Linked DNA regions of Homo sapiens: regions 2, 3 and 4 are each linked to region 1. The links come from fine-mapping of genetic effects on gene expression. A gene starts in region 1. Each other region holds a variant in brackets. All regions are shown on one strand. Distances are between the middles of the regions.

Evidence for each region.
Region 2: its variant is fine-mapped to the expression of HS2ST1 in whole blood (TOPMed, PIP 0.92).
Region 3: its variant is fine-mapped to the expression of HS2ST1 in monocytes after R848 (Quach 2016, PIP 0.95).
Region 4: its variant is fine-mapped to the expression of HS2ST1 in whole blood (TOPMed, PIP above 0.99).

The regions. Positions count from the first base shown.
Region 1 is chr1:86,910,194-86,918,461 of GRCh38, forward strand. It overlaps HS2ST1 (heparan sulfate 2-O-sulfotransferase 1), which reads left to right and starts at 4,442. Exons shown (of 7, transcript NM_012262.4): 1 at 4,442-4,967. The coding sequence starts at 4,844. SELENOF (selenoprotein F) reads right to left here and starts at 3,933. Exons shown (of 5, transcript NM_004261.5): 1 at 3,835-3,933. The coding sequence starts at 3,918. RefSeq lists enhancers at 3,230-3,844, 3,693-3,742, 3,845-4,459, 3,853-4,012, 4,063-4,182.
Region 2 is chr1:87,106,110-87,114,377 of GRCh38, forward strand. HS2ST1 (heparan sulfate 2-O-sulfotransferase 1) reads left to right here. Exons shown (of 7, transcript NM_012262.4): 7 at 1-3,873. Among named protein-coding and RNA genes, the nearest start is that of LINC01140, 20 kb to the right of the region's middle. The variant G/A (reference allele first, on the strand shown) is at 4,689.
Region 3 is chr1:87,072,023-87,080,290 of GRCh38, forward strand. HS2ST1 (heparan sulfate 2-O-sulfotransferase 1) reads left to right here. Exons shown (of 7, transcript NM_012262.4): 2 at 912-1,150. Among named protein-coding and RNA genes, the nearest start is that of LINC01140, 54 kb to the right of the region's middle. The variant CA/C (reference allele first, on the strand shown) is at 4,081.
Region 4 is chr1:86,795,537-86,803,804 of GRCh38, forward strand. No RefSeq gene overlaps it. Among named protein-coding and RNA genes, the nearest start is that of SH3GLB1, 95 kb to the left of the region's middle. The variant A/T (reference allele first, on the strand shown) is at 3,326.

The sequences.
Region 1 (8,268 bases):
TAGTGTACTTCCCACTAAATTATACGTCATGAGTATGAATTCAATAGGCAGAGTTTGAGAGAAAAAGGCTGTGTATGATGGCTGTCTTTGGGAATATTTGGTGGAATGGTGTGGCTGTGGCTGATCACCCAGTAGTTTTATTTGATGGTAAGTTAGGATGTTCCATCCTGTGGGGGTCACATTCACAAAAAAATGAGTAAGTTGATTCCTGCCTCAAAAGGTTTCAGTCTGGCTGGGCGCGGTGGCTCACGCCTGTAATCCCAGCACTTTGGGAGGCTGAGGCAGGCAGATCATGAGGTCAAGAGATCAAGACCATCCTGGCCAACATGGTGAAACCCCGTCTCTACTAAAAATACAAAAATTAGCTGTGCGTGGTGGCGTGCACCTGTAATCCCAGCTACTTGGGAGGCTGAGGCAGGAGACTGGCTTGATCCCGGGAGGCAGAGGTTGCAGTGAGCCGAGATGATGCCACCGCACTCCAGCCTGGCAACAGAGCAAGACTCCATATCAAAAAAAAAAAAAAAAAAAGGTTTCAGTCTAACATGTACTTACCAGCTAGAGTTGCACAGCTACCACAAATTTTTGAATCATATCTAAGGCAGAGTCCAAGCACATGTATTTTTTAATCTCTCCTCCTCCCAACAATTTTCATCTACACACCTCCAGTTGGGATCACTGATAATAGAGCTCTATGAAGGTAACTGAAGCTGATTTTAATAGTTTCCAAACAGATTTCATACTTCCAGGTTTTCAGACCTTTGCTTGTGGATTCTCTAATTCATTCATCAAACATTTCACTTATACATCAAGTATAGTACTACTCTGTATATGTGTCACTAGAGATAAAACAGTCAACAGGAAAGACAGGGTACTTCCCTTTGGGAGTGGGTAGGAGAATGCCAAAGAACAAGAAATTATTAAAGAAAACTATGGAACGTATCTCAGAGAATAAATATTGATCACCACTGGAGCACACAGAAAGACTCTTAATCCAAACTTGAGGGATAGCGAAGCTTTGTTGGAGGAAGTGATTTCTCTACTAAGAACAGAAAGAGAGTAAGTAGAAGACAGCCATTTTTGTTGTAGGGTAGGAGAAAGGGAGGAAAGGATGAGACGCTGGGAAGCGGCTTGTAGGTAATGAAAACACCATGCTCAAAGGTCTGGTGAGGGAGAATACAGTATGTGAAATAAGCTAAACAAGTGATGCCAATTCTCCACTTGTACCTTTCTGCTCTCCTAATAGAAGTAAATGTTGGGGAATAAGCCTGGATAGACAAACAAGTGCCTCCTTAAGGAACATTGAGGAAGACAGACTTCACCTTAAAAAACAATAAGCAGCCACTGAAGAGTTTTAATCATGACAGATTTAAATTTTAGGCAGATCACTTGATGCACTGTAGAGATTGGAAATGAAATAATGAGATGGGAGACTAGTTAAGGAAGCTGTTGTAATTCTAGGCAAAGATAGTAGCCTGAATATAAATACTAACTGTGGAAACAAAATTATTAAGTGGACTGGCTTAGAGATTTTTAAGGCTTTAACGACTAATTGAATTCAGACAGTGAAAGGAAAGAGGATTTAAAATGACTATTTTTTTTTTTTTTTTTGAGACAGAGTCCTGCTCTGTTACCCAGACTGGAGTGCAATGGTGCAATCTCGGCTCAGTGCAACCTCCGCCTCCTGGGTTCAAGTGATTCTCCTGCCTCAGCCTCCCGAGTAGGCATGCGCCACCACGCCCAGCTAATTTTTATATTTTTACTAGAGACGGGGTTTCACCGTGTTGGCCAGACTAGTCTTGAACTCCTGACCTCAGGTGATTTGCCCACCTCAGCCTCCCAAAGTGCACTGGAATGAGCCACCACAACTGGCCAAAAATGACTAATTTTTGGCTTGGGCAATTGGGAAGCTGACAAAGGCAAAGCCAACCATTTAGATTCTGAATACAGCCAGGGATAATTCAAACGGTGAACCAAGACGCTGTTATTTCTGAGGAGAGAGATGTTTATGGCCTGAGTGATTAACAATAAGTGGATGGATTTGAGATACTTAGGAATTAAAATCAGTAAGTTTCAGTAATTCCCTGGATATGATATATGTAAGGAAAGGAGTCAAACATGACATCCAAATTTCTAGTTTGGATTCTGTGCACAGTCACTGTGGTACGCTGTTTAATTAATTCCTATCATTATTACATATGGAATTAGTTAATTCCATAAATACCTCCTATCCTGGTATGCACACTTTGCAAAGTGACTCTGTCATTCCTCCCATGTAGAGATGAAATCTATTTCTCCATCCCTGAATGTGAACTAGTCTTGTGACTTGCTTTGAGAAATATGTGATGGAAGTAATATATGTGATTTCCAAGGCAAGGCTTTAGAAGGCATTGTAGCTTTTGCTCTTTTGGAGTGCTGCCCTGAGAGTGCCATGAAAAGAAGTTGGTCTAGCCGACTGGAGGATGAGAGGTCACACGGAACAGAACCAAGTCCTCGAGCTGACAGCACCAACTATAAACAGTGGTAATCCTGGAACCTTTCGGTTTAGCTGACCTACTAGGTCAACAAAAAGCATAAATGAGGCCAGGGGAAAACCAACATAGGTGGAGTAGTTCTACTCCACTGACCCAGAATTATGAGAAATCATTGCTGTTTTAAGCTACTAGGTTTTAGGGCGGTTACACAGCTATAGACAACTGACAGTCAAAGACAGAGGGAGATCAAAAAAAGACAACCTGAAATGTTATCTCGAATGACCTAAAGATGTGCAAAAACCCTTAAACAGTAGAAAGTTTAGGGAGAGGTGATCCAGTAATTCCTAGCACCAAATGCCTGAATAACAAGATAATTGGAATGTTAATTACAGAAGTTAAGAATCTACCTTTTGGTTAAAGTAGCCAAAGCAAACAGCCAGGATGCTTTCAAGCTCTTTGAGAAAGGTAAGTACAGGTGTTCATAGAGGACTCCGGTGTAGTCCCTTAACACCCTCAACCTTGGATAAGTAAATTAAACCAGGTCTCCTTATTAGAGACTACCCGAAGAATTAAGCTAGGATAAAAAAACGTAAAAGCTTTCAGCACTGTGCCTAAAATTTTACTATTCACACAGCAGAACATGGATATGAGAAGAAATAAGTTAAAAGTACACTTTTCCCATTCAAAGGTCACCCATCTATTCTGCCAATAGAGAAAAATGAAATAAAAAACGCTGCCTTAAAGAAGACAACGAACATCATTTAAAAAACTAACTTCAAAAATGAATTATACTTTGGTATAGATAACTCCTTTTACTCCAACAACATTGTTTAAAAGCACAAATCGCACTCAAGCGCAGCCAGCCGTATATGAATAGCAGAGGAGAACGGAAGTTAAGAGACTAACAGAAGTAGTGAAAATGAGAGAGCACGCGCGCGAGAGAGGTAAACACAAACTGTTCGCCTGGACCAACGACTTGAAGACTTGCCTCTAAGAGTTGGAAGTCTCGTCATGAGTCTCTTGCATTTCTGTCCATTTAAAAACAACCTCCACTTCTTGCCAAGCTTTATTATTCCCCCCTCCCACCTGGTGTGGTTTACAGATTGTTTTTAGCAAGAGCCGTATAAGAGAAGCTACGTACCCAAGACAATCTGAAATCAAGAGAAAACTGCTGCTAGAAACCCAAGGCGGGGAAGGAGAAGGATCAACCGAGAAATTAAGCCACGTTGCATTCTGGCCGCAGCAGTCATTAAGGAAGCGCAGTCCTCCCCACCCTTTTCAACCAGGACCGAATGTTGCGTCTTTCTCAGCTGCAATCACTCCTACTCTCCCTGTGGCAGCTGCGAAGGTGATCTACACTCACCGCTTGAAGCACAGTCGCCAACAACAACCGTAGCCCAAACGCCGGCACCAGACACCCACTCGGCCCAGCCGCCATCGCTACCATTTTCCGCAGGTTTCTGGCTGCCTAGAAGGACCCCTAAGCTAGGGGCGTCCACTCCAGAGCCTGATCCAAAACAGAACGCTAACGGCCGTTGCCCTTACATCTCTCATTTGGAAGTGACAGGTATTAAATAACGGCATATGAAAGCTTAAAAGTCATCAAATACAATCACTGGGTGCTTTCGATTACCCAAATCAGGCACTTGCCTAAACTCCCCACTTCTTTACTTCTGCGGTCTCCTTTCTTTTATTCACGACACTTCGTCAAGCAGCCAAGAAGCCACGCCTTCGCCAGTTTTAGCCCCGCCTTCTTCTCCAAGTTTACCCAATTGAATGTCGTCTTGATTGAGCTCTGTGGCAGAGGAAACCAACCGTAAACCGAACCAAGAGCGAAGCGCAGGGGCTCTTCCGTCCAATAAGCGGACCCGAACGGGGGGAGGGGCGGGGCTTCTGGTTGCCGAGCAGCGTACGCGGATGCGTGCGCGTGGTGGCGGAGGGGGATGGGCGGGGGCGGGGATGAGGGCGGCGCAGCCGCAGCGCCGGTGGAGGGGCGCGCGGCCGCGAGCAAAGGAGGGAGGGAAGGAAGGAAGAGAGGGAGGCGGGCAAGCAGGCGGGCGCGGGGGTCGGGGACTGAGGCAGTAGAGGGAGGCGAGAGCCCGGCAGCCGCTTCGCGCTGTTTGCTGCGCGGGCTTTTGGAGGGGGCGGCCGTTTAGTCGGCTGAGGAGAAGCGGACACCAGCGGCGTTGGTGATAGCGCCTGGGGGAGGGGGACTGGAGAGGCGAGAAGGGGGGTCGCTGCGGTGGTTCTCTCGCTGTCGCTCTCTCTTTGCCTCGCTCCCGGCTCGGCGGGCTCCTCCCGGCGTCTCTCTCGCCTCCGGGGTCCCGCTCCCCGCCCCCCGCGGTATGTCTTGATCCCGAGCAGCGGGTTTCATGGGGCTCCTCAGGATTATGATGCCGCCCAAGTTGCAGCTGCTGGCGGTGGTGGCCTTCGCGGTGGCGATGCTCTTCTTGGAAAACCAGATCCAGAAACTGGAGGAGTCCCGCTCGAAGCTAGGTGAGGAACTGAACTGCCCCGGGCTGAGTGCTGTGGAAGGGGCCGAGGAGGCGCTGCCGCCGGAGCAAGTGGGCGTTCATCTAACCTGGGGTCTGGCTCGGGGGCTGAAAGCGGTTTCAAAGAGAACCGGGAACAAGGGGCAGCGAGAGCACGAGCTCCAAGAATGGGTTGAATTAAGCTTGAGCGGCGTGCTGGGCTCGCGAGGTCACGGGGCAGAGGTTGCAAGGTTGGGCTTCCCTAGCCAAAGGGTAGCCCCGAAGTAGGCATTCCGCGGAGAGAGAGCGAGAGAGAAGACCGAACTCAGTGGGGAGCGTGTGTTGCTGGTCTCCGGAGACAGAAGCGCTTAGCATCGCGTGTTCTCTTGGAAGTCGTACAGGAAGCCCTGGCAATGTCAGATGAGGGGTATTCTAATTTGAGCTATGGGCATCTGGATACGAATTCTTTTGGGGGCTCATGAAGGGATAGGTGCGCAGAAATGGGAGGAGATGCTGGGATGACGGAGAGCAACATGTGAACACTGTAGCGAGTTGCACTCTTGTGCTCCGGGCAGCAAAGGACCTTGTAATTGCCAGCTGAGGGAGGCTGGCCGGGTAGTGCGGGAACGCGAGTGCAAAGCTTCATCGGAGTACGGAAATGAGGGTCCGGAGATTTAAATTCTTCTTTAGTGGCGCTAAACTGATGAATTGGGGCTTGAGAATAGGGATGCCTATGTATGTTGCTTCACGGCAGTGTTGATGTGAATTTCGAAGAGGAGGGAACGCTGAAGGGGAATTATGTAGTGAAGTTTGTGTTTGTTAAAGGAAAAGTAGGATTATGCGGAAAGCTAACCATATGGTTAAATACCTTAAAGGGTTAACAGGTGCTTTAATGGATGAGGGGGTCTAAAGTACAAAAAGTTGGTGTGAAGTTGTGAAAGACAGGCCAGAAAAAAGCACAGATAATAGGTACTTTCGGATTAATAGGGCACTTTGGCATTTGGAAGAGCTCAGCATGGAGAGCGAGAGTTAAAAGAATGACAGTGATAAATTTTGATTTAAAAATGTACATGGCACTTAAAAATCAGCTCAAGAGGATGTAATTTGAATATGGAAAAGTAATGTGAAGTGTTTTTTGCATACTCTCACCTCAAAATCATTTTAAATACCTTTTGAGAAGCCAGCAAAAACAAAAACAAAAAACCCTCAGCAGTGTAATTTAGACTAAGAAATAGATGTTACTGTGAGTGGATGATTAATTTTTAGGAAAAATGTACCAGAAAATAATTGTAATATTATGTATAGTAGCTATTTTGGTACAAGGCTTTGCAAAAGCCTTGACATTTTAAAGAGCCTTGAAAGAAAAACCATCAAGTAAATCTGAGTGAAGTGCAACTAAAGTTGGAGGAAAACTAGAGTTACTTCCAGCCCTCAATTCTAGAGTAAAATTTGAAGAGATACTCAGTTTATTTACGAATTCCTTTATTAATATGTATCTTGTGTGGTGGAAAAAAATGTCCACTTTAAATATTGAAGGTTATCCAGTCTGGTTTTTCTTTTCTTTTGGATCCATTTAGCGACATTCAGGGTCATATTCTGGCGTTATTAATGATCCAGCTCTACAGAAAAAAAGACTCCTCTTGAAGTGGAAAGTTATATTAAAATTAAAATTTGTACTTATTTTTTGTTTTGTTACTATTTGGAATTGTCTGGAGTTGATTTCTTAGACACGTTACAGTGGGTTAGAATGACTTAAATTTTTGATTTTCCTCCTTTCCTAACATTTCTTTCCCCATATACTTGAAAATTGCTTCCATAGACACAATCTGAATGATTTTTAAAAGAAAGTTATCTGAAGATGTATAATGCCACAGTTAAAATATAAAGTGCTTTCTTGTGATACAAGAAAGAAAATTTCATAAAAAGTAGTAAATATGCATCAAAATCCTCCTGGGACTACAGATGGGTATACCTGGGAGTACAGGTGGGTGTTACCATGCCTAGCAGAGGAAACCATATTTTGACAACCATATTCTGTACTAGGCACTTTTCATCGTAGATACTCGTGTTTAAAGTAAGAACACCATTTAAAGCCATTTTTGACCAGACACGGTGGCTCACGCCTGTAATCCCAGCACTTTGGGAGGCCGAGGCCGGCGGATCATTTGAGGTCAGGAGTTCGAGACCAGCCTCGCCAACATGGTGAAACCCTATCTCTACTAAAAATACAAAAATTAGTCGGGCGGGGTGGCGGGCGCCTGTAATCCCACCTACTCAGGAGGCTAAGGCATGAGAACCGCTTGAACCTGGGAGGCAGAGATTGCAGTAAGCCAAGATCACACCACTGCACTCCAGCCTGGGCAATAGAGTGAGACTCAGTCTCAAAAAAAAAAAAACCAAAGAACAACAGAAAGCCATTTTTGCAGATGCAGGAACAGGCTTAGAGAGGTTATATAACTTGCCCAAGACCACATCGCATTTAAGTGGCAGAGCCAGGATTGCAACCCAGGTATGTATGATTCCAAATCAAGTGCTCCTTTAATTATGTCCGGCTGCTTAAGACTTTATATTGACATTACGCTGAGATTTAGGTATTTGAATAGAGTTTTAAAATTGTAATATCAGTGTTTAATTGCATTTATTGCTAAGAATGAATATCATTCAGAGAAAATTGAATTTCTGATACAAAGGAATTGGTTTAATGTAACGTCTGCCCCTTGTTTAGATTCATGTAATGAACATAATTATGTTACCCAATGAAACAACTGAATTAGATAGCTTATTTTTACTATAGGAAAGAAAAATCTAGCTGTTTTCCATACGTGCAAAATCACAATGTTAAAAAAGCATTTTTATTTTGGCATAAAAAACCTATTAAACATTTTGTCCTTAAAAGTAGTTATTATCATTTTCATTGTAGAAGATTCCAAAGGATAGTATTGTCTGATAGTGGCTTTAATATACCTTGATTTGAGAGTACAGTATTTTGATGGTGAGACTTCTAATAGAGCAATAGATGTATTCAAAACTGAGGTGTACTCATTGACTACTTGGGAAATTCACTAATTAGGAATTCCTAAAAAAAAAAATTCAGTAATACAGCTTTTTATTTTTATTTTTTAAAAAACAAATATGGCATTGTAGTCCACATATTACAATGCGGCTTGCTTTTTTTGCCTTGAATGTTATACACATCTTTCCAGGTCAGTACATATAGATGTGACTTACTCATTCTATTAATAATAGCTGTATAATATTCCAAAGTATGCATGTATCATAAATTATTAAGCCATTATTCTAGTAACGGACATTCAGTTTGTCCCCCA
Region 2 (8,268 bases), 200 kb after region 1:
AACATCTTTAACATATAGTTTCATACCATTCATTTTTTAACAAAGAAAGGGAAAAGTCTGCTTGTAAGCTGGTTGAAAAAGTTAATCTTGATATAAATTTGTGTTTGATAAATATCCTCTCAGTGTTTTATCTTCCATGTTTCAACAACTATTGAAATATGAAATGCCTGTGAACTCTTAAAGCTTCATGAGCAGCTGCTTGAGTTCAGGAAGTTCACTGTTAGAAATAGGCTTTGTTAGCTGACTAGGGTCAGGGAAACTTTTCTCTTCAAATTTGAAAGCTGTTTCTGTTTTCATTTTACATTATTATTCAGAAATGGTAGCTATTCTATACCTATGGTTTAAGTAAATATTTCTGAATAAGGCTTCACCATACTGTAAGCATTTTAGGTAGATTGCCTTAAAGGTTATGGGAGGGCATGAGGGAACACTTCTTATGAGAAAACATTTATAAACAAAAGAAACATTTATAAACTAAAGAAAAACTAAAAGAATGACAGAACAATCATCTTAGCACCCTTTCCTCACAATAATATAAAAATATTAAAAGAACATAGGCAGGCTTTTTTTAAATTTGGCTTTTTTCTTTCCTTTTTTCAAATTGACTTTTATAGGTATTTCCTGAAAGTGTATACAAATTATTTCCTCGCCCAAAATAAAGCACCACTTCAAGGTGTGGTTTGACATTACATGCTAATGAACAAACCCAGTATGCAAGTTATTCTTGCACCACATGCTCAAATCTTCTTGAGGTGCATTAACTCTTTTAGGTAACTAGAGCAGTACTTGGTGAACTAGATCAGGAGGTCAGTAAACTTTCTGTGGAAGGGCCAGAGAGTAAATATTTTAGGCTTTGCAGCCCATACGGTCTCTGTCACAGCTAGTCAACCCTGCCATTTTACCACAAAAGCAGCAATAGACATTATGTAAACAAATGAGCACAGTTATGTTCCAATAAAACTTTATTTACAAAAACAGATGACATCCCAGATGCAGACCATGGGCAACCAACCATTGCACTGGCCAAATCATTATTTATGGAGAAATCCTCTTTGTGTCTCTACTCTAGATGCCTAAAAGAGTTTATATACTTCTAAAAGCTCCTAACTTATATCCAAAGAATTGCTTTCTGATTCGTGTAGTCTCTCCCACAGATTCATAAACTTTTATGACTTATATTGTTTCCAGGTGGGCATGGTTTATTTCCCAGTTTAACAGTTCAGAATAGGGGCATTTATTTTATCATATTTTAGGGTGGGTTAGGAGTATCCTTTCTGGAGACTGAGAAAGGGGTGTATTTAATTCCATCAGGTCCAGTACAGTACTAGGAGTCATAATACTTTATAATCAATTAAATAAATAGAACCACTGAGACAATAATGTATTTTTTTAAAGTGGCAAATGTGGTTTTCTTTTTTCAGCCTTTGCGCTTTTTCAGTATTTTGACCATAGGGAGATAATTTTTTTATAATACAAAAGTAACCACTTGGAATTTTAAAGATAATGTTATGTGTGTATGTGAAATATATATACATATATATATATATGTTTATTTCCTAAAAGAAGAAAAGATACCTTTCTGTTCAACTTGTATCAACTCCTCTTTTCTAATTGCTGTGAAATGGCAACTGTTGATAAATTATTGTGATTGTTTTAAAATCTAATGGGAAGTAAAATATATTTTGATTTTACCCAGCTTAATCTGTAAAGTAGCACTTAAATATATCTGATAGCAACACTTAAGATATTGCATGGGGATTACTTTCCTATCATCCATATGCATTTGTGCAACTTCAAACATATTGGGTGCTTCTGAATTCCTGATGATTGGATTTAAGCTATTGAAAATTGGATAATTTAAACTTAATGATTTTTATAATTTTCTGATCTTAAAATTTGGTTAATGCCTATAATCTGTTGCTTTTTCTCAATATGTGTCCTATTGGAAATTCCTCAAATCGTTGGTGCCATCAGTGATTTACAAACAATATTTTGATATTGCAGATGACTTGCTTACTGTATTTGCATTGTTAGAAAACAGTTTGTAGACAATGATTCTTTTTTAATAAAATCAAATAATTCTAAAAGTGCTAGAGAATTTAACTAAAAGCTGGTTCCCAAATGCATAGCTGGCATTTTAATTTAAATTCAAATCTACATAGAGAACATCTGTGTAAATCATCTAACTGGATTTTTCCATTGGTCATTCCCAAACACACCTATGGTCCTAGAATCCTTAAGAGAAGCACCCTGTAACCTTTTATGTGGTTTGCCTTTAAGAGGCCCAGGTGCTTCTCCTTTATGATTTGAGTTGGCCTCTTCATAAATTAGTGCTGTTTACTTTCAGAGGAAGCAGAGAAGTTGCTGTTATGTTTTTGCATCCGTTTACCCTATGCAAAGTTGCTGTATGATGCCAACTAAACTACTCTTTAGGCAGCCTTCTGAGGAGAAAAGCAACCCTGTTTCAAATCCACTGCCAATTCAGCTCCTCTGGAGTGGAGCTTTCTGATTTCTTGGAGCAGGAATTTTAGAGATTGAAATGAATGATCATTTAGTCAGATTTATCCTGTAATTTCATGCAGCTTTGTGGCCTTTGCAGTACTATTTATAAAATGGACCCTGATGGTGATGAACTCTTTAGAACGCATTACTGTTAAGCCTGTGTTGAGACATTGATGCTGTCTATCTCATTTTTTAGACAGTTTTTGTAGCTTTCTATTGAGAGTCAGGTATGTGAGCATCTCTGAAGCAGTGTTGAATGTAATTTTCGGAAACATGGATTGTGTATTTTGACTTTTATTTTATAAATACACAGCTCAACAGTGCCTTTTTTTTCCCTCATAGTCCTGTTGGAAGATGCTCACTACTTTCTCTCTTCTCTCTCCCTGCCCTCCCCCACTCCATTCAGTTGATTCATTTATGCAAATTCTGTTTCCAACTTGAAACCATTTTGTCACATCTGTTGGAGAGATAATCACTCCTTTTCCTTAACATTCTGCCAGCTTTCTGATGTTGAAGTGTTTCAGTTGACTACCTGATGCAAAAGCTATAAAATAAACAGTGGGAAGGGGAAAAATTGGTGTCCTGTTTTAATATTTTCTTTTGTAGCCTTGACACTGATGGACATTTTCCAAGCTGACTCAGTGTTCAGTGTCAACTTAACTCTCAGATAGTGTTGCCATCAAGAAAGCATGCAACATCATTGGTTTCTAATGATTTTATGGCTTGTGACAATATTTTATCTGGACTGACATGCCTCTGCTGCTTTTGCTTTGTACTTCATTGCTGGTAATAAAATTTCAGATGGAAAACTTACAAAATATATACTTAATTAGAAGAAAAAAATAGAGAAAGGGCTATTAGAATTAAAAAAATTTGAAAGTAACTTAATCTAACATTTATGGCACAGTTTGGACATATCCATAATTTTTTTTGGGAACACACATTTCTGATTTTTTTTTTCCCCCTTAAAGAAGAAAGTCTCAATTCCATTGATTTTCAATTCTTAGCCACTGGCTCATTGCTTTGAGCAATGCTTGATTGATTCTATTTATATTATATGATATTGGGTTGATAAAATACCAGTTCAATGATGAGTTTTCTTAACAGAATTTGGTTTGTACTTGCAGTGGCTGAACAAAGAGCATGGCTTGAGAATCAAAGGGATCTGCATTTAGCAATGTGATGTCAGTAAATGGACATAACAGGATTGTTGTAAAGGTTGGGCATGATGTATGCAAAGTACTGGCCAGGGTAGACTAATAACTGATGGCATTTATATGCTGTGCTGGAATATTGTTACCAAGCTGATGTGCCGTTCTCACCCTGCAGAATACTGGTTTTGTCATTTCATAAATGATATTTTTATAAATATTTTTGAATGACTGTACTTTTTACTGATTATCTTAATACCGCCTCACTTATGTACCTGTAGCATAAATATTCCTGGTTCTGATTCTTGCTGTTCTTTCCACATACAAATCACTCATTTGTACAGATTAAAGGGGGGAAACGCTGACTGTTCTAAAGAAGATAGGACTTGCTTATTCCAGAAATGACTGAGTTCATATCTTAGTATATTTGAACAGTAAGGACTGCTAAATAGTACACACATAAAATTCAGGATCACAGGAATGAAATGATTTGCACTCTTTGAACAGAAAGGACAGCAGCAGTGTAAGGAATAGGCTCTCAAGCTAAAAACTGAGAACATGAAAACCTCTGAGGACCTGACTGCAGTTGTCAAGAAAAGTAGAGATAAGGTTGGGGAGAAGCAGACAGATCTCAGGGCCAGAAACGCCAACATTTGGTGACAGGTGGGATATAATCAATAAATGGGGAATGAAGGCATTAACTTGGGTTTGTAACACAATGCATCTGTGCAAATTTTCAGCACCCCTTGCTTTTGCCTCAATTAGGCAATGATGATTACTTCCTGTGTCAAAGCTTATAAAACAGACTAGTGTTTTCCCAAAGAACATAGGATCACAAAGAAAGAATTCACTGTCTCCCTATCAGATGTTTGGCTTCCTTGCCTCTTTTGCTCTTCCAGATTTTGTGACCTGGGTTAGAGTTTAGAAAGAACCCCCTAGAAACTTTTCTGATGTTCTCTGGTTTGATGATGAAGGCGTCTAATAAAACACATCAACTCTAAGCCTCTACCTCTACTTCTCTAAACCTGAAGTTTA[G/A]AAATGAAAGTCATGCCTGGAAATGTTTCACATCATTAGCACTGACAGCGTTTACAGGGAAATAGAGAAAACGTATATGGATTAATTTTCTTTTAGATCAAGGGTGTGGGCAACTAGATTTCTAGAGCCTTCAGCCTGTCTATCGGTGATGCTGGAAAAGGAAGAGGATGAGCTGTAAGTGCAGTAACTGACCCCTGTCTAGGTTTTCTTGCTAAATACGCCCTCCATGAAACAGACAACATAAGTATTTTGAACTGTAAGAATGTTAAGAAATTTCTGTCCCTGAGCAGCAGATCGAAGAGTGATTATTCTGGGATTCTAGAATCAGTTCATTCTTTTCTTTCTCCCTCTCCCTCCGCTCTCCTTTCTTTCCAGTTTAAAATCACTCAGTCTCTTAGTAGAAATTTAACATCAAAGAACTGTCAAACTTGCTAATTTGTGATTTTTTAAGCATGTGCCGCCTTAAACTATCAAAGCTTTAACCTGTATCTAATTAAATGTTAAAATCTGGCAAAGAGTAGACCTACAGTCCCCAAGTGATCTGGTTTCTGAACTTTGTTTTGCTTTCACAAATGTGAGCCAATTTGCCCTAAATCTGGGTATTTCATGTAGCATCTTGAGAGATGTATTTAAAGTGCCTGTGGCAATAACATTTCATTTGTACCCATTTTGATGATTCTGGGTGCCCTCTTGATAAGGCAGCCAGGTTGTGCTGTAAAAAAAAACAATGTAGAGGTTTCAGTCTTAGGTGTTTGAAACTGTTGGATCTCTCAAAATTGATTAGCTGAAATATACCTTTTCTGCGTAACTGAATTCACCAGTAATTCCATTTGAAGCGGGCAGAGCCTTTCTGAAAATGGATGATCAGAAATGAGTGACATTTTATTCAACCAAGAGTTACCAGAGACATATTTTTTTTCCTTTAAAAGTAATTTAAAATTCGCCAGAGGATTACTAATTAGGTCTCTTGGCATAGCATGGTTATCTGATCAGACTGTCATGCCCATAAACAGTAAAAATGCAGCATGTTGATCCATTCATGTCTGTTTTTAAAGGAGGCTGTGGACTTTAAACTCCTCTCTCGCAGGCTTGCTCTTTGTTTCATGTGGGGGCTCTTTGAATAACACCTTAGATGAGAACAATGTTTAAGAAATAGGCCAGTTATATTTTGCTTTTCTATTTCTACCATGCTAATGGCTCTCTACTTGATCGTTTAATCACTGATCCAAATCCAGATGGAATTAGATGCTCCTTCCTGCTGTAGTCCTGCAGTCAGACAGTCTGTAATGTTTGATACGGATCTTCTGAGTGGACAAGATGAGATTAGATTAGTCTCTCTGGGAGCCAGCCCTATTCATTTTCTAAGAAAGTTATACTGGAGGCCTGAGGACTGCCAAGAGCAAAGTGGAAACAGAGCCCAGCCTTTTCCTCTTATCAAGATCCACAGTAGTTCCACATTAAGTAGTGGAGATTTGAATAATATTGGATCAGAATCCAGGAAGGAGGTCCTTGCCACCCACGATTGAAATGTGAACTTCATGTGTTACAACTTTATTACCTTTTCTTATTTTAATATATGACAAAGACTGAAATCTCTGGCATGGAGTCAGTGGCAAATTTTACTTTTGTGGGTTTTTTTTTCTACATTTAGTATTTATTGAGCCCCCACTGTTTGCCAGGCACTGCACTACAGGCTCTCTCTGCACCATGAGCTTAACCTTTCAGTAATCCTCATATTCAATCCTTTACAACTGTTTAGAACTTTATAATTTACAAGGCGCTTTCATTTCACATTTATCCTCTCATTAGATTCTCACGTGGAAGGGTAGATACCATTATCCTCGTTTTACAGTTGAAACTGACACAGCTAGGAGGTGGAAGATGGGCTCCCCAGCCCTCAAGATTCCTAGTCCATCAAACCCTGATGCCCTTCCTGATATGTGCCTGTCTCTCAAAGTCAGCAAGGGCTGTAATACAGATTAAACAATTGCAGTGGTTCTTAGGCTATAATCCCATCTCTGGACCAATAGTGTCAGCATCCCCTAGGAACTTGTTGAAAGGCAGATTCTTAGGCCCTAGCCTTCTGAGTAGGACCTAGCACTATGTTTATTAATAAGCTTTCAGGTGGTTCTGACCAAGACTAAAGTTAAGAACCACTGGTCTAGAGCACCAGTTTACAGATGAGACGACTGAAGCTCTAGTTGAGCTTAACCTAGCTGGTTAAGTAACCTAAGGCTTCTCATAACAAAAGTTGTGAACTAGGATGTGAACCCAGGTCAGTCTGGCTCCAACACCATCTGTTTTCTACATTGGACTGCGTTATAAACTATAGTGTATCTTATATATTTCATTATTGGTAAATTCCTCTCTGAAATATCGTTTTGGGGGACCACAGAGCAGGTCAATAAGAAGAAAAAAGTCCCAATGTGCTCTTCTGGAGTAAGGCAAACAATGCCACCCCTTCTAATGAGTTTCTGTTTTCTGTGTGAGGTGAATGTGGGGGCTAAACCTCAGCGTGGCTACTAGTGTGCTCAGGAAATTCAGGGACAGAGCCGAGAATCCAAAATGGCTACCCAAACTAAGTGCATTTCATCTGGACTTTCTGGTCCCAGTGTTCTTTGGTCATACTTAATAGTTTACTGTGATGGATTTAATGGCAAGAGGGCTCCTTGCCCTGGCTTGGCAATATCTGTGGAGCCATGGGTTGACGTAGTGTGGGAATACTTGTGGCTACTTGGAAATCCCTGTTGCTGTCATCATTGGCAGTGCTTCCCAGCCGAGATTCTTAGTCTGTGGTCACGTGTGAACTCTTCCAGTCATGCAGCTTAAACAGAAGTGCCCACTTGTTTCTCACAAATTATATCTGCATTTTTTTTTCTCCTAGAAGCAAGAGCCCAGACCAAGGGTTAGTCGATAGCTCAAGGGACTTCCAGGGAAATCAGAACTGATCTTCGTGCATAGCAATGCTTATAGGCTTCCTTCCACACACACTGAGAGATCAGCAGGGCAGTGGACTGAGCCTTCGGGTGCAATGCATTTCCTCAACACATTCTTTTTGAAAGAGGAAGATTGTTGCCCATGTATAGTGTACTTCTTATGTGCCGGCACTGTACCAAGTGCTATGCATTTGTTAACACTCATTTCATCCCCCCTTTTTTTTTAAGAGAAAGAGGATCTCACTCTGTCACCCATGCTGGAGTGCAGTGGCACAACCATGGCTCACTGCAGCCTCGAACTCATGGGCTCAAGACTCAGCCTCCCAAAGTGCTAAGATTACACGCTTGAGCCCCCATGGCTGGCCTCATTTCATCCTCTTAATCCTCTGAGGAAGGTACTACTAGCAGCCCCATTTTACAGATGAGAATGAATTAGAAGTTCAGATGCTTTCTTACAGTCACACAGCTAGAAAGTGGTGGAGCAGGATTCAAATCCAAGTCTAGCTACAAATTTTCTGCTCTTAACCATCCTGTTGCATAGGCTCTGACAGCTGTGACAGGCAGTAGTGGGGGGTTGTTTTGAAAGTCTTGCCATAGGCTGGATGCAGTGGCTCACACCCGTAATCCCAGCACTTTGGGAGGCC
Region 3 (8,268 bases), 160 kb after region 1:
AATGTATATTAGAATGTATAGATATTTGAATATATATATTTGAAGCTGAAGTTTGCATTAAATAGAGAATACTAGAAAGCAAAATGTAACTGCTTTTGAAACCACATAGCAGATAGGTAATTTTAGAGGAACCATGAAATTTAAGTGAAAAGCATAGCCATGTGCTAAACATAGTTTCTAATGCAACACCAAAAAGAAAAAGGATTTATGGTAGTATTGTTTCTACCCTTCTAAGTCATATTGTTTCTACTCTTGTTAAGTCATATTAGCATTTATAATCACTTTATAATCACTGTCCTGTTACAGTTTTTTAATTTATAATTTATAATCACTTTATAATCACTGTCCTGCTACATTTTTATAAACCAGAGAATAACTAAATCGGGTAATAAATTTCAAAACCTTTTCTTAAATTATAAGTAATTTCTCTTTTAAGTGCATTTTTATACTGTGAAGTTTAGTATTCCATGCAATCTTTGTGTGTTTGAGAATTAGTTCAGGCTGTAGGAATTCTATTAGAATGTAAAGTGACTTTTGAACTGCACTGAAGTACTCTGTGGTCTGTGCTATTCTGCATTTGTTGACTCTTTATTCCTTTTTGTTCTTGATATACATATGTATTATCCTTCATAAGGAATTCTGAAGCTTTGGTCCTCAAAACATTTCTTCAACAGCTCTTACCTAGTTCTTGAATAGGAAGATTATGTTCCAGGCTGTACAGCTGTTTTAGAATCAACTAGATCCTCTTAGAAACCCAAGCAATTTACCCATGTTTTCCATATCCCTTGGTTCTTTGCTTTTGTTTTTTGTTTTCTTTTTTGTATCTTTTCTAATCATGGTCCAAAGTTCAGTGTTCATAACTTCCTTATAGTGTCCTTAAAAACTTAGTTCGTATCTGTTTTTCTTTCCAGAAAGGGCTATTGCAAGACACGAAGTCCGAGAAATTGAGCAGCGACATACAATGGATGGCCCTCGGCAAGATGCCACTTTAGATGAGGAAGAGGACATGGTGATCATTTATAACAGAGTTCCCAAAACGGCAAGCACTTCATTTACCAATATCGCCTATGACCTGTGTGCAAAGAATAAATACCATGTCCTTCATATCAACACTACCAAAAATAATCCAGTGATGTCATTGCAAGATCAGGTAATTACCACTTAAGGAATGCCCAAATATTTTCTAATACTTCCTCACTCAAATTTTCTAGCTCAAGGGGATAAAGTATTTTAAAGGGATGTGAGTGCTGATCTCAGTGGATCATAAGCCTTTTAGGGGAGAGGGCCAGCTAACTTTTGTATAATTTTACTTGACAGTATTTGACACATTTCCTTGCATATAGTATGTACTCAAATATTTGTGAAGTAAATGAATTAATGAATAGCTTGAATTTTTGAGAAAACTGATGTTCCTGAGCATAGTATCCTTTTAAAAATATAATTTTGGCATGATACCCTGCAATAAAAATTATTGTCTCAACTTATGATGGAGAAATATTTGATGGATACTTGTATTCAATTTTGTGACCAGCCCCTCTTTACTAGATAGAGATAGAGATAGATACAGAGAGAGTTTATATATACATTGCTTATAAATGTATATATAGTTTAGTTGTGGCTTCTTCAACATAATCTTACCTTTTAAATTCTCACGAAGTTTTAGATAAACAGATGAATAAATAATTTTGTGAAATGGTTTTAAGAAAAGTAGAGGAAATTATCTTATGAAATAAAATTTGCTCATCTCTTTAATAGTAGTAGCATACATTTCTCCCACACCTGGAATTTTGACTGCAATTATAAATAAAGTTCTCTCTATAAATATGGAAGGGCATGGGAATTCCACCCCATGAGAAGGAAAGATAATGTTTGCAAATACTACTTAGGATCAAATACCAAATTGGAGTAGGCTTATTAGAAAGATATTTGTGATGGTCCTGTAGTTACAATGATATTTATCTGTTTGAAAGCAGTGAACTTGTTACAGAATTGACTGTCATCTCACTATTTAGCATAACTATAATCCTTACACTTAAACAAGAGAATTACATTGAGACACAAGACTAAGGTTGGCTTTCTTGCTAGAGAGCTGTTTGTAAAGGCTAGTAGTATATGGTATGTCATCTGCCCATGTAATTTTTGGCTCTTTGCAGAATCCTGGAGTACTCTTTTTTGTAGAACCAAAATTCCACATCTGTCGGCCAAACCAAATAACTCTTCTATGAATGAGAAGAAACATGAGTTGTTTTTAGCTATGTGTGTCATAAAAACTATTCATTATGTAATATTGTGTATCTCAAGGACAAGTATCCTAAATATTCTGTTTTTATACAGTGTGTAGTAGGTTTTAAATCTTTTTGCATTACTGCTTTTCAAAATATGCTTTGGTTTAAAAGGAATATGTATTCATGCTTAGATAATAATTTCAGATTTATTCAGTAGTACTTTTTAGAAAAATAATGTTAATTTGTTTGTTCAGCATTACAAAGTCCTGGTAACTGCAAGATGTCTGGCAATGACATCAACCATTATTTTCATGAAATATAAATCTGGAGGAGCTCACCACATATGACATTTATAGGCATCATGTAGTAGTATATTTTCCCAGTTGCATTTGGATGAGATAAAGCTTCTGTTTTTCTTTTAATAACTTGTTGGTTATGTATAGGAAAAAAAAAACAGCAGGAGAGAAGCATAAATGCTATCTTAAAAGCAATTGGATTGCATAATGACCAACACTTAAAAAATGTTTGTGTGGGGCAGCGCAGAAGAATAGTCTTAATCATTAGCTGACATACTTCAAAATTATCAGCTGGTAGTCCAAAACCTGATCTTAATTAAGAGTAACTTACTTAACAAATGTTCTTTATATACCCTATCTCCAGTTTTGTGATCTCTTGTTCTATGTAGACGCAGTTCTTCAAACAAGTTATATTTACTGCTTCCCCTTCTTTTGTGTGACATGTTTTCATGTTTACTTCACTTTTAATCTAGTAAGCTTCATCTAAATGTAAACTAAAAATTGCACTGTATTTCTTAAAAATAATTTTTAAATATTCCCTGAACCCCATCTGATATAACACACTTTTATTTTAATAATATCATATTTTGTTGTCTCTGTGTACTGTTCTCAGCTACCTTTTTTTTTTTTTTTTTTTTTTTTGGAGACAGGGTTTTGCTCTTGCTTCCCAGGCTGGAGTGCAATGGTGCGATCTCGGCTCATTGCAACCTCTGCCTCCCACGTTCAAGCAATTCTGCCTCAGCCTCCCAAGTAGCGAGGATTATAGGCATGCGCCACCACGCCCAGCTAATTTTTGTATTTTTAGTAGAGACAGAGTCTCACCGTGTTAGTCAGGCTGGTCACAAACTCCTGACCTCAGGTGATCCGCCCACCTAGGCCTCCCAAAGTGCTGGGATTACAGGCGCCTGGCCTCTCAGCTGCTTAAATAAGAATTAAATGAACTATTTTGCTCTTTTTTCTTCTCTAAGAAATAGTTTCTAATCAAGTACAACTTAAAAGATGAGATCTTTCTTAAATCTGTTGTCTCCAGCTTCCGTGTAAAGCTCAGTTTACTCATAAAAATATTTTGAGATATGTTACCTGACCATCCTCTTTATTCCCTCACCTTCCAATCTTAGTTCAGTCTGCTTGATATCTGCCTTTAGCCCCAGCTTTCCTAGACATTTTTTGTACATACTATATTAGGTATTGTTCTAAACTGTTTACCTGCTTAATTATTTGTCTCAAAAATTTTAGAGGCAAAGCCCAAATATTTTTAGTCTGGTATAAAACCACTCAATGTATAATAGTTATATATATTCTGCTATCCTTAGAAATAGTTGTCAACTCTGCTTTTGAGTTTTTCATTTATTTGTTGTGTATGTAATATACACAAAGGTTGTACTACATTCTTTGGGGAAATAACAAAGAAATAGAAAGCATGGCCACATCCTTGAAGGAGCTTATTTAAAATTTACTTGGGAACATAAAACATAAACACAGGGGCTATGAAAACAGTTAAAATAAAACATCAATTTGTGGTGATCTCACTGAAATATTTAACCAAAAGTGTTCCCTAC[CA/C]AAATGTTTGATTTGGACCTAATCCCGAGAAAACAAATTAATGTAGAATATTCTACAGAACAACTGACTTCTAAAGTGTCAGTATCATAACAACCAAAAAAGTTGGAGGGAGGCTTCTCTAGACTAGAGAGACATGGAAACCAAATGTAATGTATGGTCTGTGATCAGATCCTTGATCAAAAATGATATCTTTGTTCATAGACATAGTACATGCTGAGGTAATTAGGGGTTAAATATGAATGACAACTATTTGCTTTCAAATAGGTCAGAAAAAATTGAGTATGTATGTGCATACATAGAGAAAAAAGATAAAAGTGACAAAATGTTAATAATTAGTGAATCTAGGTGAAGAGTATAGAGATGTTCACTGTCCTATTTTTTCATCTTTTCTGTAGTTTAGAAATTTTTTTAAATAAAAAAGTTGAAAAGTTAAAAGAAGGATATTAAAAGATAAACATTTGAGAATATAAGGTATGAGAAACTAAGCAATTAGAATAAGGTGTGGACTCAGTCATTAAAGATACATTTTTGCGATGGGCTTTACTTAGTTAATAGAGAGGAATTGGCAAGAGATAGGTAATCAATCAACTCTTCTAGTTGAAAAATGGAGTTTGCTTTGCTGTCATGTGTTTAGCCATACCATATATGTGATTAGCCACATCTTTTATGATTTTTCAAAAAAAGAATTCTTTTTTGCTCTCATATGTTTAGGTCTATGATTATATATAACCCCTTTTGTTAAAACATTGGAAATACCTAGAATTTGTATTCTCTGAAGAACAACATGAATTTTTTTCTTTTTGAAATTCACTCTCAAGCCAACTTTAGGTTATCTGCGTTAGAGCCCACAGTTCACCAGGAGTTGCAGATACTTTTCAGAGCAGCACTTTAGATGAATTTTCTCCACCTATAATGTGTATGCTAATCACTGGTTAAAATGCAGATTCAGATTCAGAAGGACCAAGATGGAGCCCAGTTTTCAATTTTTAAACAACTCCCACTGGATGCCAAAATTAATGCCGCTGGTCTTTAAACTGCAGTTTGAGTAACAAAGATACAGATGATGATTCTCAGTAGGGATATGGGAAGATGAATACTTTAGTCTTCCCAGGATGGTAGGGTACTTATCTTTAAATTGTTATTCCTACCTCCCCTACAAAATCCACATTTCTTACATAGACCAAGAGGCCCTTTTTAATCTAGCCCTTGTGTGCACCAACTTCTTACCCACTAGCCACACTGGCCTTGTGTTTCATTGAATACGCCAAGCCTTTCCCATTTTAAGGCCTCCGCACTTATCCTTTCCTCTTAGAATGCACTTCTCCTGGCTTCTTCCAGAGTTGGCTTCATGTTATCCATTTAAGGTTTAATGACATCCTCTTAGAAAAACCATGCCTGGCCATCCTACATATTAATTACCTCTTCTAAGTTACTGTGTACTGTATCACTCTTGTTGTGTCTTCTCTGGTACTAATCAGCTTACTAACTTATCTTATATATTGGTTTGTTTACTGCCTGTCTTTTCCTCTATTATAAGATCTTTAAGGATAGGAACCTTGTCTGTCTTGTTCACTACTATATCCCTTATGTTTAGAATAGTGCCTGAGACATAGTAGAAACTATACATTTTTTGTTAAATAAATGATGAATGAATGAACAAATGGACCAACATAGATTTTGATAGCGGTAGATGATAATAATTACTGGCAGAGTGAGCACCTCTGATTGACAGCAGTATGATCTATTCTTATCTCTCAGGTGGATTGGGAACCAGCCCCCTGCCCTACACTCCTAAAACAGGTTGAACAGCACAGCTCTGAACTTCAGTGAAGATATGTTCAATTACTGCAAACTTTTCTTATATTTTTATCCAACCACTACTTTGTTTTCCTGTGAGTGTAGAAAACTTTCTCCCTGGCTTAGTCTCATAAAAGTACCCACAGCCATACAAGAAATGTTTAAGTAAATGCATGAGTGGGAGTTTGGTAGATAGTAATTACTCAAGTTAATAGTAGCATTCATTCAACAGATAGTAATTACAGAGTTGGAATTTGGCCAGAATGTTCAGGATGACATTCCTGCTCTTTTAGATAGTGAAAACAAATGCTTTTGTTATCACAGATAATCATAATATTGAGGTTGATCTATTAAGAATATAGGTCAAGACACTACTGTTAGTGAGAAGGGTGCTTCTTAGCTTTTTCCTGTAACATCAGTTTAGGTCTGATTCAACTAACAAAAAACCCCAACACCATTACCTATATTGTTTGTGTTTTTCCTTAAGGTCTCTTCTTATTACTTGCTAGCCTGACTTGAGTCATCAAATCCAACAAAAATCACGGTTTACACTCTGCTTCAGGCTAGCTGCGTTTCATGTACTATATCTGACTACTACATCTGAAACATTCTTCTTGGTAGCATATTTCAGTCAGAGTATGAAAATTTTCTATGACTAAAGTCACTGTAGTGGCCTTATTTCTTCTCCCCAAGCCAGAGTTTTCAGTGTCTTCAGTCTCCTTAACTTCAATTGATACTATTAAGTTTTGCTCCTTTTTTGGCCTATCACTTTACCTTTCATTTGTGCCAAGTATAGTCAGTAAGAATCCATAAAGTGAACTGAGTAGAAGTTTGCTTACCTAATCTCAGTGTCCTCTTCTTACTCCTCTGTATTTTCAAACCTTGTCTCAAGGTCTTAGGCAGCATGCCCAAGAGAAATACCAGAAGAAAACAAACTGAAAGACAAAGCAAGTGGTGCAGGGAGGTGAGAAGGCAGATCATGATAGAGCAGAACTGGGACTAGACTGATGAGAGAGAAAAGATGAAGGTGAAAGAGTAGAGACCAGGAAAGTTCTGGAGAACTAAGGATAAATATTAAACTGTAAAAGGAGAAGTGGCCGAATTAATACTTTAAAAATAAAACTTTTAAAAGTACTGTTTTTCAAAGGGAGTTACTCATATTATTTCCTTGGAGAACAGTTTTGAAGAGGAGATAAAGATAATATGGAATTTCAGCAGTATGTAAATGATACTTTTTTTTTTTTTGAGACACAGCCTTGCTCGGTCGCCCAGGCTGGACCAGGCTGGAGTGCAGTGGTGCGATCTAGGCTCACTGCAACCTCCACCTCCCGGGTCCAAGCGATTCTCCTGTCTCAGCCTCCCGTGTAGCTAGGATTACAGGCATGAGCCACCACGCCTGGCTAATTTTTTGTATTTTAGTAGGGACGGGGTTTTACCATGTTGCCTTGGCTGGTCTCAAACCCCTGAGCTCAGGAAGTCCACCCGCCTCGGCTTTCCAAAGTGCTAGGATTATAGGCGTGAGCCACTGCACCTGGCCAACACTTTCAAATGCTCAGACTGTTTTCTAGATTAGTGTGAACCATGTTAGCCATACTGACATCATTTATTTGCTTCACACTTTTTTCTTCGTCATAAAGAGAAGGTAAACCTCAGTTCAGCATCTTTTGATTCATTGTAAATTTTAAATCGGCCACAGCTATGTTAATGAAACTTTAACATATTGCCTTAGTTAAATGCTGATGAGATGAAAGAAAAATACGTATGCCAGATATATTACATGTCTAGCCTTTAGTATGCTTTTAGTTTGAGCTTAGAAAGAGATTCTGTGTGTTTTGAGGACTTTAACAATAGTAGAGGCCAGGCACAGTGGCTCAGGCCTGTGAGCACTTTGGGATTCTGGGAGGCTGAGGTGGGAGGATCACTTGAGCCCAGGAGTTTAAGAACAGCCCTGGTAACAACTCTACAAAAAAAAAAAAAAATTTTTTTTTTCTTTAAATCTTGGCTTGGCATGGTGGTGTACTCCTGCAGTGCTGGCTACTTGGGAGGCTGAGGTGGGAGGACCACTTGAGCCCAGGAGTTAGAGGTTACAGTGAGTTATGATCATGCCACTGTGCTGTCCGGCATGAGTGACAGAATGAGATTCTGTCTCAAGAAAGAAAAAACAAATAGATTCTAGAGAATTTTAAAGCAATAATAATCACCTGAATTTACCTCAGATAGCATGGATTTAGGAAGTAAAATTCAAAATCCTACATAGATATTTAGATGTAGTCTCTTGGTTTCAACCAGGAGTACTCAGCAATCCCAGTGGTTACCCAAGATAATAAAAAGACAAGGGAACAAACGTCAAGGGTTATTGTTAAAATGGTTGTCCGGTAAAGAGAGTAGTG
Region 4 (8,268 bases), 110 kb before region 1:
AGTCTTATTTCAGCATTCCTTTTTTCACTGACTATACACATTGAATCAGCTTTCTTATCCTGCCAGTTCCCTCATAAATGAATTGAATAAAGCCTTGACACATGCATCTATTTGTATGAGAATTATCTTTATAGCAGTTTGGAAATTATGCCTTGATACTCTATCAGCATGTAACAGAATATGAAATAGCAGAATGATCCCATTTTAAACAAATGAGTCTGTCTTAGTTTGGTTTCCCAAGAAGTAAACCCTAGGACATAGATTTGAGTAGAATAGCTTATTTTAGAGGTGCAGGGACTACTAGAAGGGAAGTAAGGAAATGACAGAGGGAATAGCAGGCAGCCACCAAAGGGTGGTCATTAAGCCTGCTACCATCCTGGGCAGCGATGCAGCTCAATCCACAGGGAAACTGCAAGACAGAGTAGAAAATATGTGTGTCAGAATTATCCCACTCAAAACTGGGGGAGCTGGGATATTTATACACCAATTCCTATAAGTATTAATTGAAGACTGCTCCTGGGTAGTATCAATTCCCCAGCACTTCCTGCCACCTACATGGCAACTTTTCTCAGTGCTGGAGAAAGTTCTTGTGCATGAAGAGACAGACATAAGCCACGGGAAATCTTGGCATTTTCTGAAATGGTAGCATCCAAGGGATATAGACAGGATACTCAAGACCTTTTTAAAAAAACAAACAAAATAAAACATTTGCATTTAGTGGGAAATAATGTTATACTCAAGGTCACAGAACCCAAGTTCAATGCATCAACTTCCTCATGAAACAAAATAACTCTTTTTTTTTTTTGATGGAATTTCGCTCTTGTTGCCCAGGCTGGAGTGCAATGGCATAATCTCGGCTCACTGCAACCTTCACCTCCCAGTTGCAAGCGATTCTCCTGCCTCAACCTCCCGAGTAGCTGGGATTACAGGCATGCACTACCACGCCCGGCTAATTTTTGTATTTTTAATATAGACAGGGTTTCTCCAAGTTGGTCAGGCTGGTCTCAAACTCCCGACCTCAGGTGATCCATCTGCCTCAGCCTCCCAAAGTGCTGGGATTACAGGCATGAGTCACCACGCCCAGCCTAGGAACTCTTTTTTAACTCTTTTTTCTATGATAAAATATCCAGATTTGATTCTTCATCAAAGGACCTTTCCTCACAATTAGTCAACTGCAAAGTACTCAGAGCACAAGGCAGCTGCTTTTCTAAAAGAAATCTCTATTTCCAGACACTTGAGGGGTCTTGAGTAGTACATTTGCCATCAGAAGTAAATGTATTAACTATATAAGATGGTAAATGATCTTTTTGCAACATGAATGGAAATTATTGGTCAAATATTTCATTGTGTCTTCTTTAAGGTACATTTAGAACTTTTTATAATTAAATAGAAGCCTTTACAAAGTATTGGCCTAAATCCTAAATTATTTTCAAAAGTATTGATTTAACATGGTTTAAAAAAAAAAAATGGCCTGGCACGGTGACTCACACCTCTAATCCCAGCACCTTGGGAGGCCGAGGCAGGTGGACCACCTGAGGTCAGGAATTCGAGACCAGCCTGGCCAACATGGTAAAACCCCATCTCTACTAAAAATACAAAAAACTAGCCAGGCGTGGTGGCAGGCTCCTGTAATCCCAGCTACTCAGAGGGCAGAGGCAGGAGAATTGCTTGAACCCAGGAGGCGGAGGTTGCAGTGAGCCTAGATCACACCATCGCACTCTAGCCTGGGGGACAAGAGCGAGACTTCATCTCAAAAATATATATATATTATATATATATAAAATATATATATAATATATATAAAATATAATATATATAATATATAATATATATAATATATTATATATAAAATATATAATATATAATATATATAATAAAATATACATAATATATAATGTATAATAAAATATACATAATATATAATATATAATAAATATATAATATATAATATATAATAAAATATATAATATATAATATATAATAAAATATATAATATATTATATATAATAAAATATATAATATATTATATATAATAAAATATATAATATATTATATATAATAAAATATATAATATATTATATATAATAAAATATATAATATATTATATATAATAAAATATATAATATATTATATATAATAAAATATATAATATATAATATATAATAATATATATAATATATAATATATATAATAAAATATATATAATATATAATATATATAATAAAATATATAATATATAATATATATAATAAAATATATATGATATATAATATATATAATAAAATATATGATATATAATATATATAATAAAATATATAATATATAATATAATATATAATATATATACTAAAAAATATATAATATATAATAAAAAATATATAATATATAATATATATAATATATAATAAAATATATATAATATATGATATGTATAATAAATATATAATATATATAATAAAATATATATATATTTTTTTTCACCTTACAAGAGGATTTCTTGGCCTGGTACCATGGCTCACACCTATAATCCCAGCACTTTGGGAGGCCGAGGCGGGCAGATCACGAGGTCAAGAGATTGAGACCATCTTGGCCAACATGGTGAAAACCCGTCTCTACTAAAAATACAAAAATTAGCTGGGCGTGGTGGTGGGCGCCTGTAATCCCAGCTACTCGGGATGCTGAGGCAGGAGAATTGCTTGAACCTGGGAGGCGGAGGTTGCAATGAGCCAAGATCGCGCCACTGCACTCCGGCCTGGCGACAGAGCAAGACTCTGTCCCAAAAAAACAAAAAACAAAAATTAGCTAGGCATGGTGGCGGATGCCTGTAATCTCAGCTACTCGAGAGGCTGAGGCAGGAGAATTGCTTGAACCCAGGAGGCGGAGATCGTGCCACTGCACTCCAGCCTGGGCAACAGAGCGAGATTTCATCTAAAAAAAAAAAAGGAGGACTTCTAGATACCCAAAAAAAAAAAAGGAAGGAAGACTATGAGGCAGGAGAATTGCTTGAACTCAGTGACTCGAGATTGTGCCACTGCACTCCAGCCTGGGCAACAGAGCAAGATTCCATCTCAAAAAAAAAAAAAAAAAAGGAGGACTTCTAGATACCAAAAAAGAAGGAAGACTATGGACCACACCATCAGATTTATAAAAGAGAAACTTCCATGTTCCTGGGTTGCTAAAAAGCCCCATTGTGAGCCTGGGGGAACTTTATGAATGGTCCAGCTCAGCTGTGCTGCTCTGAGGCCTCTGAAGATCCACACTGAGGCCACACCGGCATGGTACTATGTCCTGTGCACTCAGAGAGTGAGCAAAAATACCTCCCCTC[A/T]AGTGACATGGGCACAAAATTAAAACTACTTCAACTCAAATTCTTGCTCAGGATGTTCTCTATTTGTTTCCTGAACACCAGATTATCTGGGTCAAAAACCAAGCCTCCAGCCTATAACTAGAAAATGAGGGTTCCTCAGAGTTCTACCCAAATCACAAGGGCATGATCTCCCACGCCACCTTCTTTGCATTGCTACATGCACATATGCAAACACATACACTGCAACCAGAACTCAGGATTTCCCCTTAAGTCCCCTTCCTCTCTCCCCAGGTATTTCTGAAATGGGAACTCCATGTAGGCCCATGCAACACTGTCAGCTGCAGGTGCCCACAGCAGCTACCCTGTTCTTCTGCCTGGCTCCCACACCATTTTCTGTGAGTAGCTGTCATCAGCCTCACCCCCTCCCAAGTTTCACAGAGAATCACTAGAAAATAATTCCTTTAGTTTCTTCTAACCAAAGAGACCAAGATGGGAAGGAGATCTATACCATCTATACCATTCAGCACTCCTCCTCCCGCTTCTTCTCCTTCTGCTCCTTTTTTTTCTCCCCCACCTCCTCTCTTTCTTTCTCCTGCTCCTCTCAACCTGGCCCTCAACCATAACTCTTCTCTCCTTCCTGAGTTACAGAGCTGAAGTTTCCTGGCACATCGAGGGATGCAAAGAGTTACAAATGGCAGTGGGAGAAAGAGCCTTTAATACATCTTTCAGCGGTGCTGACCTGCAGCCAGAATTTACCAGCCCTTCCTCTGTTCTAGTGCCATTGATCACCAAAGCAACAAGAAATATCTGAACTAGAGGGAGCCACTCCAGTTTATCTGATTTCTAAGTTGCTATCACTCAACAAAAATCCTAATATAAATCAGGCACTGTGTAATGTGGGTGTCCTAAGATCAACATAACTTTTTTCTTCTTATTATTATTACTACCTTAGTTCAGACCACCAACACCCCCTCTCACCTAAATTACCTCGATGCCTCCATTTTCCCCAACCCCAACATATTCTCATATGGTTCCCAGAATAATTTGTCCAACAAAACATTTGATGGTGTCAATGTTGTAAAGAAAAGCGAGTTATCTTTTAAAATCTTTAATACATTCCCTCAGAACTCACAGCAAAGTCCTAACATGGTAAAGCTTAAAAGACCCTTTGTGATCTACCTTCTGCTCATTTTTCCAGGCTCATCTCTTGTCCCTGGCCTCCCTGGAGATGTCCAGAGATGCCCCCTTCTCTCTACTCATGCTTCTCACAATTACAGGAATATGCTCTTCTCATCCCTTCATCTGTTAATTCTCATTAGTCTTCAAAGTCTTAGCCTAGGCATGAATTCCTGTAGGAAGCGTCCTCTGACTCAAGGCTGGGTTAGAGTCCCTCCTGGAGTTGACACCTTTGGAAGTATCTAATTAGCCCATGAGCCACACCTCCTTCTTTAAGAACTGAGCCTCACTTGCCCACTCCCCCAATTTACAGTCACTGGCCCCAGAGCCATGTTTTTACTATGACCTTGCCAATTAGACAAGGGTTAAACCCTTCATTGAAGGGGGACAAATTAGATTCCCCTCCCCAAGAATTTGGCATAGGGGCAGGCCATCCAGCCTCCTGGTCAGGCTTCAACATGTAAACCCAGGAATGAGCTGTGGGATGGTCATATCCCTCTGTGGGGACAAAGAAGCATGAGGCCAGGCTGCAGAGAAAAATGCAGCCCACCAGCAGAGAAAGACTACTTCTGGGGCTCCCAGTGGCTCTCCAGTTCCTGGTTCTATAATAGTCCTATTTGACATACTGCTACATTTTTATTTTTTTAACTCCTCTCTTTTGTTTAAGAGAGCTCAGTTGTTTTTTGTTTCTCTAAGCCAAAGTCTTAACTAATACATCCTTCTTGTGCTCATTTACCACATGCTTCAATGGCCTGTTCACTAGTTTGTATCTTTCATTGAAAGTTGTAACCTCCTTAAGGACAAAGATTATGTTTTATTCGTTATTGTTGTATCTCAAACACAGTGTTTGATACATCATAGGTATTCAAAAATTGTTTATTGAATCAAGGTCATAGTGAATACTTATTGCATACTGATTATGTACCAGGCACTATTGTATTCACTCATTCAATTCTCACAAGAAGAAAAAGTAATTACTGTTTTGTTTTGTTTTGCTGATGGACTCTCGCTCTATCACCCAGGCTGGAGTGCAGTGGCGCCATCTTGGCTCACTGAAACCTCCGCCTCCCGGGTTCAAGCAATTCTCTGCCTCAGCCTCCTGAGTAGCTGGGATTACAGGCATGTGCCACCACGCCCAGCTAATTTTTGTATTTTTAGTAGAGACAAGGTTTCACCATCCTGGCCAGGCTTGTCTTGAACTCCTGACCTCGTGATCCACCTGCCTCGGCCTCCCAAAGTGCTAGGATTACAGGCATGAGCCGCAGTGCCCAGCGCTAATTACTGTCTTTTTATACCTACTTTACAGATCAGAAAATTAAGGTGCAGAAAAGTTACTAGCCCAAGACCACAAAACTAGCAAATGGAATTTAAGTCTATGCAATTTAAGTGGGATTTAAGACAAGCTGGGAATTAAGTCTATGCAATCTGACTCCAGAGACCATGCTCTTAAGGAGGCCTCGCCCTGCTTAACAGAAATAAGAGAGAAGGGATGCAGGACACAGTGCCTTTCCCAGAGTAGCTTATAGCATTCTTTTCTATCTTTCCTATGGTTTTCATGGTTTCGTGACACCCATTTGGTACTGTATCTTATGCAGTCATGTTGTGTCTAGAATTGGTGGGTTCTTGGTCTCGCTGACTTCAAGAATGAAGCCGTGGATCCTCACAGTGAGTGTTACAGTTCTTAAAGATGGTGTGTCCGGAGTTTTTTCATTCTGGTGGGTTTGTGGTCTCACTGACTTCAGGACTGAATCTGCAGATCTTCACGGTGAGTGTTACAGCCCTTAAAGGTGGCCCGTCTGGAGTTGTTTGTTCCTCCTGGTGGGTTCATGGTCTTGCTGGCTTCAGGAGTGAAGCTGCAGACCTTCACAGTGAGTGTTACAGCTCATAAAGTTAGTGTGGACCCAAAGAGTGAGCAGCAGCAAGATTTATTGCAAAGAGTGAAAGAACAAAACTTACACAGCGTGGAAGGGGACCCGAGTGGGTTGCCGCTGCTGGCTAGGGTGGCCTGCTCCTTTATTTGGCCCCACCTACATCCCTACACCCTGCTGATTGGTCCATTTTACAGAGAGCTGATTGGTCTGTTTTGACAGAGTGCTGATTGGTGCATTTACAAACCTTTAGCTAGACACAGAGTGCTGATTGGTGCATTTACAAACCTTTAGCTAGACACAAAAGTTCTCCAAGTCCCCACCCAACTAGCTAGACACAGAGTGCTGATTGGTGTGTTTACAATCCTTTAGCTAGACAGAAAAGTTCTCCAAGTCCCCACTTGACCCAGAAGCCCAGCCAGCTTCACCTCTTAATCCCCCCCTAAACAGGACACCCCAACTGCTGTTGGGAATTTGGCTGATGACCGCTCTAGCTACTTCCTGCTGGATAGGGGTGAAGAAGGGGCCCTGCAGTTGTAGTGTCCTCCAGAGGGGAACTCTTTAAGCCAGTGGAAGGGCCAGTGGGTTGGTCCAGGGGTCCTCAGTAGAAGTTGTTAGTTGAACTCATTTGGGGTTCCATTTGTAAGACCATCTGTAGCTTGATGGCCTTAATTCTAGGGGAAACAAATTTGACAAGGAGGTTAAAAACACAGGGCCTGAAGGCAAGTAATAGCAAGATGGCTACCACGGGACCTAGAAAGGGGAGAAGCCATGTTGCCCAACTCCAGAGGTTGGTATAAGAATTGTGAAAGGTGTTTTCTGATTTCAGAAGCCTTTTCCTGTAATTGCTGGGCAGCATCTCATACTATCCCTGACTGGTTAATGTAAAAAGAACACTCTTCCCCTAAGAAGGTTCAGAGTCCTCCTTTCTCAGCAGTGAGGAGGTCTAGGCCTCAATGGTTTTGGAGAGTCACTGCTGCCAAAGAATCTATTTGGGATTGTAGAGTAAGGATAGATTTCATTATTTCTTGCAAACTGTCTGAGAAAGCCTTTGAGAGTGTGTGGTAGTAAGATAATGCATGTTACACTGTTAACTTTTAGCAAACTCTACTTTAGTAGAAAACCTTGTAAGTTTGGAATTTTAATTTTTCTTTGCTATTAATAAAACCTCATTCAGTCCATATTAACTTAGAATTGGTATAGATGTCTCCTTCCTGATTCTGTAAGTACTTTAAGATTTGGTTTAGTGCAAACAACTCACACATTTGAGCAGACCAATTATTAGGCAATTTTCCTAACTCTGCTTCTACAAGAGTTTCCTTAACATTTACTGAATACCCATTGTGTCTTTTTTCCTTAATCGCCCAGGAGGAACCATCTATCCTCCTGTCCTAAAGGGAGTTCCTCCTCTGTCTGGTCGGACCTTCAGATTTAGATCCCCTGTTAGGAAACCTGCTGGGTTAAGGATTTTTGATAGGAAGGCTACGGGTTGTCAGTGGCCTCAGTGCTTTCGGGCTACCCCCTTGTTTACACTAACAAGGTGGTATTGGAGTGTTATAGGGTCACAGAGAAGACCTTCAATTATCAATTATAGGTTTTAAATTTACCCTGGCTTTTAAAGGAATACGGTATACTGTTTTTTCTTTACTACTTCCATCTCCCTTTCTTTCTCTTTGACTTATTCATCTTTCACTTTCTCACTCCCTCTTTGTCTGTCTTTTCCTCTCTTTCTTTGACTTTCTATGTCTTTCTCTCGCGTTCTCTGTCTCTCTCTTTGACTCCTTCTCTTTGTCTCTCTGTTTCTTCCTCTCTTTTTTCTCTGTCTCTTTCTCTCTTTCCTTTCTGCTGGTCTTTCCCTGACTCTGCTAGCTGCTTATGCTGCTGTTCTCCCTTCTCCTTCCCCTTTTTGATGGCTTTGGC